2 linked regions of the Homo sapiens genome follow. The protein of the gene in region 1 purifies or fractionates together with the protein of each later gene. This does not show direct contact. Each region holds a gene or a part of one and is shown on either strand. Other genes may lie near its edges.

Evidence for each region. Proteins that work in one complex are often made in the same cells at the same time.
Region 2: the proteins of RBM24 (region 1) and TYMP purify together in Homo sapiens (affinity purification with mass spectrometry; 3 studies listed by BioGRID and IntAct, with this or other methods). This does not show direct contact.

What each region holds. Positions count from the first base shown.
Region 1 is NC_000006.12:17,290,730-17,295,360, forward strand, and holds the end of RBM24 (RNA-binding protein 24), read left to right. Parts: intron 1-119; coding exon of another isoform or gene 120-164; intron 165-1,026; coding exon 1,027-1,390; coding exon of another isoform or gene 1,391-1,403; 3' UTR 1,404-3,142; downstream 3,143-4,631. UniProt on the Homo sapiens protein: Multifunctional RNA-binding protein involved in the regulation of pre-mRNA splicing, mRNA stability and mRNA translation important for cell fate decision and differentiation. Plays a major role in pre-mRNA alternative splicing regulation.
Region 2 is NC_000022.11:50,527,013-50,535,880, reverse strand, and holds the start of TYMP (thymidine phosphorylase isoform 1 precursor), read left to right. Parts: upstream 1-5,868; 5' UTR 5,869-5,977; exon of another isoform or gene 5,978-6,161; 5' UTR 6,162-6,171; coding exon 6,172-6,385; intron 6,386-6,542; coding exon 6,543-6,745; intron 6,746-7,270; coding exon 7,271-7,369; intron 7,370-8,163; coding exon 8,164-8,293; intron 8,294-8,597; coding exon 8,598-8,716; intron 8,717-8,868. Other genes in the region: CIMAP1B (ciliary microtubule associated protein 1B), read left to right, coding at 3,804-3,912, 4,108-4,311, 4,586-4,690, 4,823-5,223. UniProt on the Homo sapiens protein: May have a role in maintaining the integrity of the blood vessels. Has growth promoting activity on endothelial cells, angiogenic activity in vivo and chemotactic activity on endothelial cells in vitro. Catalyzes the reversible phosphorolysis of thymidine.

The sequences.
Region 1 (4,631 bases):
TGTTATGTAAACCTTTTAAATTTCTATTAATTTTAGAAATATTTAGTTGTACTTCCCTGTCCTGCCTTTTCCCTCAACCTCATCATTTCCCCAAAACCCCTTCTGTCTGTCTTGCATAGAGATAAACAAGCTGGCTGACCCTCAGGTGCCTGATAGTCAAACAGGTTTGGTTGACCGTTGTGTCCTTATGAATTTTATGGGGGAAAAAAAAGAGAAAGAAAGAAAATAAGTGTGCTGCACATCTCTTTGGGAATCACTGCCATGAATGTTAATAGCATTTTTGTAGCTTCCCACGACAGCCTCTTGTGACAGAGTGAGCTGCACTACAGTTCGTTTGAGAAGTGTGATTCTGCTGTGTTTACCACACTTGTGAACTTTTAAACTCCTTTTTCTTATTTTGTCGCCTGCTTCCTTTTTTAATTATTATTTTTAATAAGGGTGACTGAGGTTGCAGAGAGATTAATGTGTGCTGAGTCTGCATAGCAATTTCAAGTAGGGTTGCCATGATAATAAACATACGGATTTTGTTAACGTTTATGTTAATTTCGACAAACTGGTGATCACCCCACAGAAGTGAATAATTATGGACTACCTTTTGAGTCCTATATTCTTGGCTAAGAATTTTTCTATTTACTTAATTAAACATTCTTATTTTATGAACTCATTACAAAATTTTCCAAAGTCTTCATCAATTGAGCACTTGTTAAACCTCTCTTACGTGTGTAGCCCTCATGAATCTTGATTTATTTTCCAAACTCTTGATAAACTGTACTTAGCAGCTCCAAATAATCATACATGACAATTCTAGCAGGGAGGGTGTCATCATATTTTTGGGGTCCAGTTCTTCTGGGGGCACTCTATGACTTTGGCTACTGCCTGAGTATTCTCAATGGACCACTAGAAAGTAGATATTGTGGCAACCCTATGCTCATAATAACCACTAAATTTGAGTTTGTTTTATCTTTGAACAACATGCTACAGTTAGGAGGTGACTACCGCCTGACTTTGTTTTCCATTTCTCAACAGGATACCTGCCCACTATGTCTATCCGCAGGCTTTTGTGCAGCCGGGAGTGGTCATTCCACACGTCCAGCCGACAGCAGCTGCCGCCTCCACCACCCCTTACATTGATTACACTGGAGCTGCATACGCACAATACTCAGCAGCTGCTGCTGCTGCCGCCGCCGCTGCTGCCTATGACCAGTACCCCTATGCAGCCTCTCCAGCTGCTGCAGGATATGTTACTGCTGGGGGCTATGGCTACGCAGTCCAGCAGCCAATCACCGCAGCGGCACCTGGGACAGCTGCCGCCGCCGCTGCAGCAGCTGCTGCCGCTGCAGCATTTGGCCAGTACCAGCCTCAGCAGCTGCAGACAGACCGAATGCAATAGACCAGCCATCTGATCAAAGTTGAATTGTTTTCTCTTTCCCTCCCAATTTTCCAATTTTTAGTAGCTAATAAGAGAGTTAACATTGACTTAACAGCTTTAAAAAAAAAAACAGCCATGCTATTGTGAAGCAGAGTTATTATTTTTTTTATACTCCAGGTAGTGTTCTAGATGAGAAAGAGGTAAGAATGAGGGGAATGGGCACAATTTTGGAAATCAATCCCAAAGAGCCTGAGTAAATGAAAGGCCACTACGAAATGACGCCAGGAGTAACAACGGAACTTCACTTTTGTAACGGGATTTTTATTTTTGCTCTTTTTATAGTATCAGGGAAGCAAACTGCCTTTTACAAGTTAGAAAATGCTGTTTGAATCTAGTTGAACCAGGGAATACAGAGCGAGCAATATGTAGCTTGAATTACATTTAAAAGCAGATTTTTTACAAACAAAATGGCGAAAGCACTGATTGTCATTTTTAGCAGTCACTTAAGGCCTATAGAACTTTTTTCAAGTCGGAAGGTCCTGTTCTTACTATCTCAAAAATGGGCATCGAACAATCAATCTAGGAGCGTGGCAGTGGGTAAAATGGTGGACAGGCACCAAAGCTATTTTCTCATCTGTCCTGTGGATGAGTGGAACTGTGGAACAAGTGATGTGGAATTAATGGGTGCAACAGCTGTACAGACAATCAATAACACACACAGTTCTGGAAAGAACACATCACTTGTGCTTGTTTGATGAGCTTGTCACATTCTAATCCCTCTCCCCATCCTGTTTCAATTTTGGGAAACTTGTATCTGCTGGTGTCAGCAATTCTGATTCTGAAATAGGATCAGGCTTTTACTACAACAGCCTTCTCTTTCTATTTATTGTGTCGACTCGTGGCTTATGAATAAAGGCAGGCAAAGTTTGCAGAACTGTCTTAAGGACATTTATTTTTTTTCCCTTTTTAAGTAATTTTACACTTTAGTATCTATTTCAGAGTCATATTTAAAACTATTTATTAGTGACTACAGTACATGAGACAACAAGGTTACTGAGATTACAATTCTTCAAAGGTTAATGATAATGTGGTTTATACTGTGCCTTAATAGTAATGCTATTTAAGATATTTATTTTTAAGTTTTACTATGCTGCACTCTAAAGAAAGGAACTTTAGATGTGACACTGTAAAATTATGTATTCATCTCATGGCATAAATTATTTAGTAAGTCTAGATGTAGCGTATTAAATATTAACCTATTCAACTAAAGATGTTGACTTGGATTTATTTAAATTCATATGTGCACTGTATAAGAGAGTACTCTTACATTAACACATTTTAGTTTAGTTTTTAGATTTTTTTTTAAACGATATATTGCTAGTTTCATGCTTCCTCCTCTGATTTTGCCTGTGTAGATTTCATTTATTGGTAATTCATTAGTTTAACACTATTATGTAGTTTTTAAATGCTGCTTTACATTTTTCTTCTGAAACTGCAATACTTGCAATTTTTATTCTTAAACTAAATTGAATACTATTTTACACTGTATTGGATTTTTATACTTGAACAATTTCATACAAGGGAAGACAGGTTAGCATTTTTATGGACTTTCTCCATTATCACTGGATTTACTTTAAGTATTCCCATACTAGACAGTGTTATGTAATGTAGACATGACTCTCCTGTGCAAATTATTTATTCGTTGTGTATATTGCTTTATAACATTTCAGATCTTCTAATCTATTCACTTGTATTAAATATAATTTTTAAAAACTTCTGTTGCATTGGCTGTTTCTAATTCTGTAGTAAAGGTCAATGATTTCTCTTTTGAACTTGAATCAATAGCCATGATTGATACGTAACATTTTCAGTGAGCATAATACTCTCTTGGATGTCCTGGTTTTGTGCCTTTAAAGTAAGTTTCACTAACTGAATATCTACCTTATACTTAGCAAATGATATAGGTCATCCCCTGTCCCACCAGGGGAGCCCTAAAGGACTTCGTATCACTGAAAACTGGTTAGCTGAAAGATGGCTTGGAAGGCGTGGGCCAGTAGTAGAGAGGACTAGTCAGAAGTGGGACCAGCCCAGTGGTGCTCGGGTCAGCTAAACTCAGGTTTGAGCTGGACTCCCCACTTTTCAGCAATGTTAGTGAAGCCAATTGCTCTTCGTAATTCACCTTTTTTTTTTTTTTTTTTTTTGAGACAGAGTCTTGCTCTGTCACCCAGTCTGGAGTGCAGTGGCACGACCTCGGCTCACTGCAAGCTCCGCCTCCCAGGTTCACGCCATTCTCCTGCCTTAGCCTCCCGCGTAGCTGGGACTGCAGGCACCCGCCACCTCGCCTGGCTAATTTTTTGTATTTTTAGTAGAGACGGGGTTTCATCGTGTTAGCCAGGATGGTCTAGATCTCCTGACCTCATGATCTGCCCGCCTCAGCCTCCCAAAGTGCTGGGATTACAGGTGTGAGCCACCGCACCTGGTCTGTAATTCACTTTTTTAATGCATTCCTCATCTATAATATTGTGACAATAATACTTGTCTCGCATGGTTATTTAAATAATTAAATTTAAAAAGCACACCAACTACTTGCCACAGAGCCAGATACATAGTAAGTAAATCTGTAGTAGTGGCCAGGCGCGGTGGCTCACACCTGTAATCCCAGCACTTTGGGAGGCCAAGGCAGGCGGATCATGGGAGACTGAGACCATCCTGGCTAACAGTGAAACCCCTTCTCCACTAAAAATACAAAAAATTAGCCAGGCATGGTAGCACGTGCCTGTAGTCCCAGCTACTCAGGAGGCTGGGGCAGGAGAATCGGGTAGGAGAATTGCTTGAACCCAGGAGGTGGAGGTTGCAGTGAGCAGAGATCATGCCACTGCACTCCAGCCTGGGCGACAGAGCAAGACTCTGTCTCAAAAAAAACTATATATATATATATATATATATATATATGGGTGTGTGTGTGTGTATGTATATATATATATATATAGTAGCAATTGTTGTAAGGCCCAATAGTGGTAGCTAACCAGAGGAAGTCACCTATTGGGATGTTTTAATTTATATCCACAATGATGTAATATCTAATACGGTATGTGTTAGAATATCAAATGAGTGTCATATTGACAGTCTAGAAGTGTATGTTATGCTAATTATGGAGTGGATTGGGGTTGGTTTTTTTGGGTTTTTTTTTTTTTTTTTGGTTTGGTTTGTTTGTTTTAAGACAGAGTCTCGCTCTGTTGCCCCAGCTGGAGTGCAGTAGCAT
Region 2 (8,868 bases), on another chromosome or scaffold:
CTGGACGCGGTGGCTCACGCCTATAATCCCAGCACTTTGGGAGGCCGAGGCGGGCAGATCACAAGGTCAAGAGATCGAGACCATCCTGGCCAACATGGTGAAACCCCATCTCTACTAAAAATACAAAAATTAGCTGGGCATGGTGGCGGGCGCCTGTAATCCCAGCTATTCGGGAGGATAAGGCAGAAGAATTGCTTGAATCCGGGAGGTGGAGGTTGCAGTGAGCCGAGATTGTGCCACTGCACTCCAGCCTGGCGACAGAGCGAGACTCTGTCTCAAAAATATACATATATAGTTATTATATTTTATCTACTACTTTGTGTTAGTTCCTGTTTCATTCCTTTATGTTACTTATTTTTTTTCCATTTGTAAGATATATACTAAGCTTTTTGAATCGTTTCTTCATTAATAATGTAGTCACGAGGCTGGGTGGCTTACTTCTGTAATCCCAGCACTTTGGGAAGCCAAGGCCGGTGGATCTTTCGAGCCCAGGTGTTCAAGGCCGGCCTGGGCAACATGGTGAAACCCCACCTCTCCCAAAAATACAAAACAAGTAGCCGAGTGTGGTGGTGCATGTCTGTGGTCCCAGCTACTTGGGAGGCTGACAAGGGAAGATTGTTTGAGCCTGGGAGGCAGAGGTTGCAGCGAGCTGAGATGCTCCACTGCACCCCAGCCTGGTTGACAGAGTGAGACTCTGTCTAAAATAATAATAATGAAGTCTTTTTTTTTTTTTTTTTGAGATGGAGTCTTGCTCTGTCGCCCAGGCTGGAGTGCAGTGGTGCAATCTCCGCTCACTGCAAGCTCCGCCTCCTGGGTTCACGCCATTCTCCTGCCTCAGCCTCCCGAGTAGCTGAGACTACAGGCGCCCGCCACTATGACTGGCTAATTTTTTTTTGTATTTTTAGTAGAGACGGGGTTCCACCATGTTAGCCAGGATAGTCTCGATCTCCTGACCTCGTGATCCACCCGCCTCGGCCTCCCAAAGTGCTGGGATTACAGGCGTGAGCCACCGCACCCAGCCATAATGAAGTCATCTTAAAATGACTATAAATTTTCCTCAGAACATGTAGGGTCCAGCCGTACGGGGCTTAGTGGGTGTTCTCCCCGTGTGCGGAGATGAGAGATTATAATAAATAAAGACACAAGACAAAGAGATAAAGAGAAAACAGCTGGGCCCGGGGGACCACTACCATCAAGAGGAGGAGACCGGTAGTGGCCCCAAACGGCTGATATTTATTGCATACAAGACAAGGGGACAGGGTAAGGAGGGTGAATCTTCTGAGTGATTGACAAGGTGAAGCATGTCACGTGATCACAGGACAGGGGCCCCTTCCCTTTTAGGTAGCTGAAGCAGAGAGGGAAGGCAGCAAACGTCAGCGTTTTCTTCTATGCATTTCTAAGAAAGATCAAATACTTTAAGACTTTAACTATTTCTTCTACCGCTATCTACTGTGAACTTCAAAGAGGAACCAGGAGTATGGGAGGAGCATGAAAGTGGACAAGGAGCGTGACCAGTGAAGCACCACAGGGAGGGGGTTAGGCCTCCGGATGACTGCGGGCAGGCCTGGAAAATATCCAGCCTCCCACAAGAAGCTGGTGGAGCAGAGTGTTCCCTGACTCCTTCAAAGAAAGGAGACTGCCTTTCGCAGTCTGCTAAGTAACGGGTGCCTTCCCAGACACTGGCGTTACCGCTTGACCAAGGAGCCCTCAAACGGCCCTTATATGGGCGTGACAGACGGCTCACCTCTTGCCTTCTAGGTCACTTCTCACAATGTCCCTTCAGCACCTGACCCTATACCCGCCGGTGATTCCTAGGTTATATTAATGATGCAACAAAGAGTAATATTAAAAGTTAATGACTAATGTCTACACTAATGATTGATAATGTCCATGGTCATCTCTATATCTAATTTGTATGATAACTATTCTTACTGTAACTATTTTCTTTATTATACTGAAACAGTTTGTGCCTTCAGTCTCTTGCCTCGGCACCTGGGTAATCCTCCGCCCACAAGAACACAGCTTTAGCTGCCTCCTGTAGGAGTTCAGTAGGAAGGGAATCTACCTTTGTAGTGTTTGATATGTAGTTTTAAGGAAGGAGACCACCCCTCATATATATGTCTTATGCCCAATTTCTGCCTCCAAAGAAAGAAAAAGTAAAACCTAAAAGACAGAAATAAAATCCACAGGCAGACAGCCCAGTGCCGCGCCCTGGGCCTGGTAGTTAAAGAGGGACCCCTGACCTAACCGGTTATGTTATCTGTAGATTCCAGACATTGCATGGAAAAGCACTGTGAAAATCCCTGTCCTGTTCTGTTCCGTTCTGATTACCCGGTGCACGCAGACCCCAGTCACGTACCCCCTGCTTGCTCAATCGATCATGACCTCTCACGCAGACCCCCTTAGAGTTGTGAGCCCTTAAAAGGGACAGGAATTGCTCACTCAGGGAGCTCGGCTCTTGAGACAGGAGTCTTGCCGATGCCCCCGGCCGAATAAATCCCTTCCTTCTTTAACCTGGTGTCTGAGGAGTTTTGTCTGCGGCTCTTCCTGCTACAGTTTGTAACCAGATTATTTCTGACAAGTTTTGATCCAGGGTTTTTTTTTAAAGATTTGTCAATTTCAAAATATTTGTTTGCTCCTGCTTCCTGTTCTCTCTCTCCCTTTTTTTTTCTTTTTTTAAGACAAGGTCTCACTCTGTCACCCAGGCCGGAGTCTAGTGGTGGGATCACTGCTCACTGCAGGATCCAACTCCCAGACTCAACAGATCCTGCCGACTCAGCCACCGACCCCATAGCTGGGAATACAGATGTACATCATCACACCCAGCTAATTTTTAAAGTTTTTTGTCGAGATGGGTCTCACTGTATTGCCCAGGCTGAGTTTTCTTCTTCTTTTTTTTACATTTTGTTTGCCTAGAATTGTATTTGATTGTAATCAAATCATGTGTCACATCTTTTTTTCAATTTGTGTGATTATTTTGTGGCCCAATACATGATTTTTTTTGCGAATATTTCATGGACTTAAATAGATAAGTCCTCTCTCTACACATAATTAAATGGAGTGTGTGCTTTGCATTATTCAGTTCCTTTATTCCCATCCTTGCTTTTGTCTGCAGATTTGTCCTATTCCAGAATGGGTATACTGAAACTTGGGTAAGGGTGAGGCCAGCGTTCTGGGTGGCCCAGGCTACTATCCCACCCGTGCCACAGAATCCACACAGAGGCCCAGCGGCGGCACTGGGTGGTGGGGAAGGGGGAGGCGGACCCAGGTTGGGGGGGCAGGCAGTCAGTGCGGTTGCCAGGAAGCGGGAAAGGGCCACAATGGGGTCTGGGAGGTGGGCGGGGCGGAGCGGGGATGTCCAGCCACGTCGCTTTGTTTTCCCACGCTAGGAGCTACCACAACAGGTCAGTGCACCTCGGGGCACCGGGTCCCCCACGCAGGCCCTTCCCGGGGCACCCTTTCCCAACAGCACGAAAATCTCCTGCCCCCACCCCACCCCCAGGTGATTCCCTTCACCAAGTCTGGGTCTAGACTTGGCCCCCGCGAGTTCACGTCCCTGCCTAATGCGCCTGGAGTCCGGGTGATGGCCCTGGATCCGCTCCCGGCCCCAAGCTCCACACAGCCGGGAAGGAAGCTCGCGTTTGTTTTGCTGGCGCCAGGGATACGGTCCAGGCCCCGCCCCGCCCCGCGCTGATCCCAGGGTAGTGGGAAAGTGCGCTCCCCAAGAATTTGCGGTGCAGGGGCCGCGGCCACCGCCTTCTGTCCGCAGGTGCTGCGAGCCGTAAGCGCCCCCCACCCGCGCTATGGGCTCGGACGCCTGGGTGGGCCTTTGGCGGCCACACCGGCCCCGCGGCCCCATCGCGGCGCACTACGGAGGCCCCGGGCCCAAATACAAGCTGCCGCCCAACACCGGTAGAAGGGGCAGGCCCCGGGATTGAGGGGTGGGACGGCGCCTGGGGGAGGGAAGGGGAAGAGACCAGGGAGGCCTGCGCTCGGGGCTGAACCGTGCCTGCTAGAGGGGAGAGGGGGTCTGTGCCGGGGGAGGGTCCGTGTTGCAGATGGGGCTTGGGGCTGGGCCCGGCCAGACGCTAACTCGGATGCTCCCAGGCTACGCCCTGCATGACCCGTCGCGGCCGCGCGCCCCCGCCTTCACCTTCGGCGCGCGCTTCCCCACGCAGCAGACGACGTGCGGCCCCGGGCCAGGCCACCTGGTGCCCGCTCGCATGACCGTGCGCGGCACCGACGGCGCCCCCGCCTACTCCATCTACGGCCGCCCACGCCGCTCAGCGCCCTTCCTCACTCCGGGACCTGGTCAGGACCCCCGGGCCCCTGGCCACCCCAACGCCGAACTGCCTCCAGGGAGGCCCACCTGGGAACCCCCGACCTGAACCCCGAGTCCCCCTCGGATACCCTAACACCGCATATTCGGTACCCCCATATCCGGATCTCAAATCCCAAACCCCGAACCCCACGGGGCTTTGATAAATCGTGGCTCAGACTCCCCACTAGTCCCAGGACCCCATCTCGGGTACCCACCAGGCTCCCACGCAGTTCTAGCCCCCCACACCCTTGATCCGCCCCGCAGGCAGGTACTTCCCGGAGCGAGCGGGGAACGCGACGTACCCCAGTGCGCCTCGGCACACCATTGCTCCCCGAAACTGGGGTGTCCAGGCGGAACAGCAGAGCCCAGGTGAGGTCAGAACGGCCCATCCCAGAACTGTGGGCCTTCCCACTCGAGACCGGGGACCGCCCTCCGGGAGCTGGGACCACCCTGCGCCTGTCCGCGGAGACCCACTACCCCCGAGCCCTGCCTCCTCCCCAGGTCCCGCGGCCTATACGGTGCCCTCGCTCTTGGGTCCGCGCGTCATCGGCAAAGTCTCCGCCCCAACTTGCTCCATCTACGGCCGCAGAGCGGCTGGCAGTTTCTTCGAGGACCTCAGCAAGGTGGGGGAGGGGCCGGGGCGGACGCAGGGGGTCCCTGGTCCGCGGCAGTGGAGGCGGCAGCCAGCACCCTCTGCCCTCTCGCAGACCCCGGGCCCCTGCGCCTATCAGGTCGTGAGTCCAGGGGTCTACAAGTCCCGGGCCCCCCAGTTCACGATTCTGGCGCGGACTTCGCTCCCCCAAGACAACACTCGGAAGCCAGGGCCCGCGGCCTACAACGTGGATCAGGTGGCCTGGAGCCCAGGGTCAAGGGTCAGAGTCAGGAGAGTGGGGAGGGCCTGAGGTCGGAGTGATGGGATCAGAGTCCCCGGGGGTCCAGGGGTCCCGGCGCGGAGAGGATGCCGGCCCCGCGAGGTCAGCGGTGTCTCCGGGCCCGCAGCACCGGAAGCCCCGCGGCTGGAGTTTCGGGATCCGGCACTCGGACTACCTGGCCCCGCTGGTGACCGACGCGGACAACTGACCCGCCAGGCGGGAGCGGCCCCACACGTGTTTGCTTAAAGTCTGCGAGTCCGCATCGTGTCCGCCTCTCTCTCTCTCTCTCTGCGCGTCCTGGCGCAAGGCCTGGGGTGGAGCCACGGCTGGGGCCGTGTCCCAACTCCGAACCCAGCGGGGCGGGGCCCGAGCGTCGGGCGAGGCCGGGACCCCAGCGCTGCGCCGCGTCCGAACGTCGAGACCCCACCGAGGGCGGGAGGGGGACTCTCGGGAGCCACAGACGCCCGAGACCCACGCCGGGCGGGACCGGCCAGGGATCACCCCCGCCGACGGCCCCGGGCCCCGACGGCCCGGAAGTTCCGCGTGTCCGGGGGCACCGGGGGATTGGCCGGGGCGCGGCGTGCAAGGCTTCCCGGGGGCGGCGACTGCCGAGCTCCGCCCTCCAGGCGGCCCCACCCGCCTGCCGTCCTGGGGCGCCGCCGCCCCGCCGCCGGCAGTGGACCGCTGTGCGCGAACCCTGAACCCTACGGTCCCGACCCGCGGGCGAGGCCGGGTACCTGGGCTGGGATCCGGAGCAAGCGGGCGAGGGCAGCGCCCTAAGCAGGTACGGGCGGGGCTCAAGTCGCGAGGCGGGGAAGCGGGAGGCAGACACGGACGAGGGCGACACAGACACGGGACCGAGGGGCGGACACCGGAGAGACACGGGAAAGGGGTCGGGACAGGAGCACGTGGCTCAGACACCGACGCCGGGAGGCCGCAGACCCCGGACGTGTCAGGCATCCCCGCAGGCCCGGAGCGATGGCAGCCTTGATGACCCCGGGAACCGGGGCCCCACCCGCGCCTGGTGACTTCTCCGGGGAAGGGAGCCAGGGACTTCCCGACCCTTCGCCAGAGCCCAAGCAGCTCCCGGAGCTGATCCGCATGAAGCGAGACGGAGGCCGCCTGAGCGAAGCGGACATCAGGGGCTTCGTGGCCGCTGTGGTGAATGGGAGCGCGCAGGGCGCACAGATCGGTGCGTGGGGAGGGTTGGGCGTTCCTGACCCCGACTGGGAGGTCAGCCCGAGAGACTTTGGGTCCCTGGGGGTGCGACGGTGCCCCACTACCAGCACCGGCCCCAGGGTGCCCCACCGCTGTGGGCTGCCACCCTCACGCGTACCCCCACATACCAGGGGCCATGCTGATGGCCATCCGACTTCGGGGCATGGATCTGGAGGAGACCTCGGTGCTGACCCAGGCCCTGGCTCAGTCGGGACAGCAGCTGGAGTGGCCAGAGGCCTGGCGCCAGCAGCTTGTGGACAAGCATTCCACAGGGGGTGTGGGTGACAAGGTCAGCCTGGTCCTCGCACCTGCCCTGGCGGCATGTGGCTGCAAGGTTAGAAACCACCTCCTTTCCAGACGGGAGCCTATACCGCACATGCAGCAACCAGTCCATCCACAGGCAGCTCCCAACCTCAAGCCTGGCCCAAAGCCTCCAAGACCCTACCAAGGCTTCTCCCCACCCTGCTCCCCAGCACAGTTCTCCCCACCCCGTTCCCCAGCACAGCGCTTGGGGCCCCTCTGGCTCCAGACCAGGCCCCTTGGAGCAGGAAAAAGATCCACTGATGGAATTCAGACCCCTTTCCCCTTGGGTCCCCAGACAGCTCCCCCAAGGGAGGAGCTGAGGACTTTCCTCCCTCTGCCCCAAGCCTTGTTTCCCCAAGGACAGGTACCAACCTCCTCCCCTACTGACACTTCTCAACCAAGAAAACTTCCTTTCCATTCCCTCACCAGCTGGGCACCCCTATAGCTGCTTAAATACTTTCCAAATCCAGCTGCACTCCTAGCCAGGGAAGGTGAAGGGATGCACAGAGGTGGGGGAGGGGTACTGTGCAGGGTACTCAGCATCCCTGACCACCAGGTGCCAATGATCAGCGGACGTGGTCTGGGGCACACAGGAGGCACCTTGGATAAGCTGGAGTCTATTCCTGGATTCAATGTCATCCAGAGCCCAGAGCAGGTACGGGGCGCCACGGATCAGTCATTAATCCAGGTTGATGATGGAGACCCTGGCCAGAATCACTAAAAGATCACTGGTGGATCATTAGGGTCACTAATGAGAACACTGGTCAAGGTTACTCATGAGTCACTGGGCCTGGGCCGAAATCATCAGTGGAACTTTGATTAGGATCATAAAATGGGAAGTTGGTCAAAATCACAGATGGCTGGCGGGGCACGGTGGCTCACACCTGTAGTCCTAGCACTTGGGGAGGCCGAAGAGGGCAGATCCCTTGAACCCAGGAGTTCAAAACCAGCCTGGATAACACGGCAAAACCCCATCTCTACAAAATAGTTCGCTGCGTGTGGTGGTGCACGCATGTGGTTCCAGCTACTCAGGAGGCTGAGGCAGGAGGATCACTTGAGCCTGGGAGGTCTAGGCTGCAGTGAGCCGGGACGATGCCACTGCACTCCAGCCTGGGCAACAGAGTGAGACCCTGTCCCAGCACTCTGGGAGGCAGAGGAGCCCAGTTGGAGATCAGCCTGGGTAATATAGTGAAACTTGATCTCTACAAAAAAAAGAAGAAAAAAAAAAGCCGCGTGTGGTGGTGCGCACCTGTAGTCCCAGCTACTGGGAAGCTGAGGTGGGAGGATCACTTAAGCCCAGGAGGCAGAGGTCACAATGAGCCGAAATTGTGCCAACTGCACTCCAGCCTGGGCAACAGAGGAAGACTCTTCACAGAAAAAAAAAAAAAAAAAAAAAAAGCTGCTAAGTCATTTACCATAAGTCACTGAGAACAGGGGATGTCTGACCAGATGCAAGTGCTGCTGGACCAGGCGGGCTGCTGTATCGTGGGTCAGAGTGAGCAGCTGGTTCCTGCGGACGGAATCCTATATGCAGCCAGAGATGTGACAGCCACCGTGGACAGCCTGCCACTCATCACAGGTGACCTGACTCCATGGCCTGCTTCTGCATGTTCACAGGCTCCTGACCTCCAAACTCAAGTCAAGGGCCTCTCGTTAGGAGTTACCCGTCACCTGACCGTGTGCCCCCCTACCCCCATCACAAGATGCCTGACCACCACCATGTGGGGTGGCCTGATACTCAACCCACCAGGTGCTGCCACCCCCATAATAAGGGACTTGACCCTCAATGCTCAGGGCCCCTGACCCCAAAGTCGGCATCCCCGAACTCTCCCAAGAAGCTCCAGGTTCTCCATTGTCTCCAACCTCCTCTGCCTCCCCCAAAGCCTCCATTCTCAGTAAGAAACTCGTGGAGGGGCTGTCCGCTCTGGTGGTGGACGTTAAGTTCGGAGGGGCCGCCGTCTTCCCCAACCAGGAGCAGGCCCGGGAGCTGGCAAAGACGCTGGTGAGCGGTGTGGCCTTTCCCTGGGCAAGCGTCTTGATGCGGGCCCAGCCTACCCTTCACCCCTCCCGTCCCCACTGCCTCCCTCCACTCAGCAGTCCTGCCTAACCCCAGTCCCACCCTCTTCTGCCCGAAGTCCCTCCCTCCTTCACGGC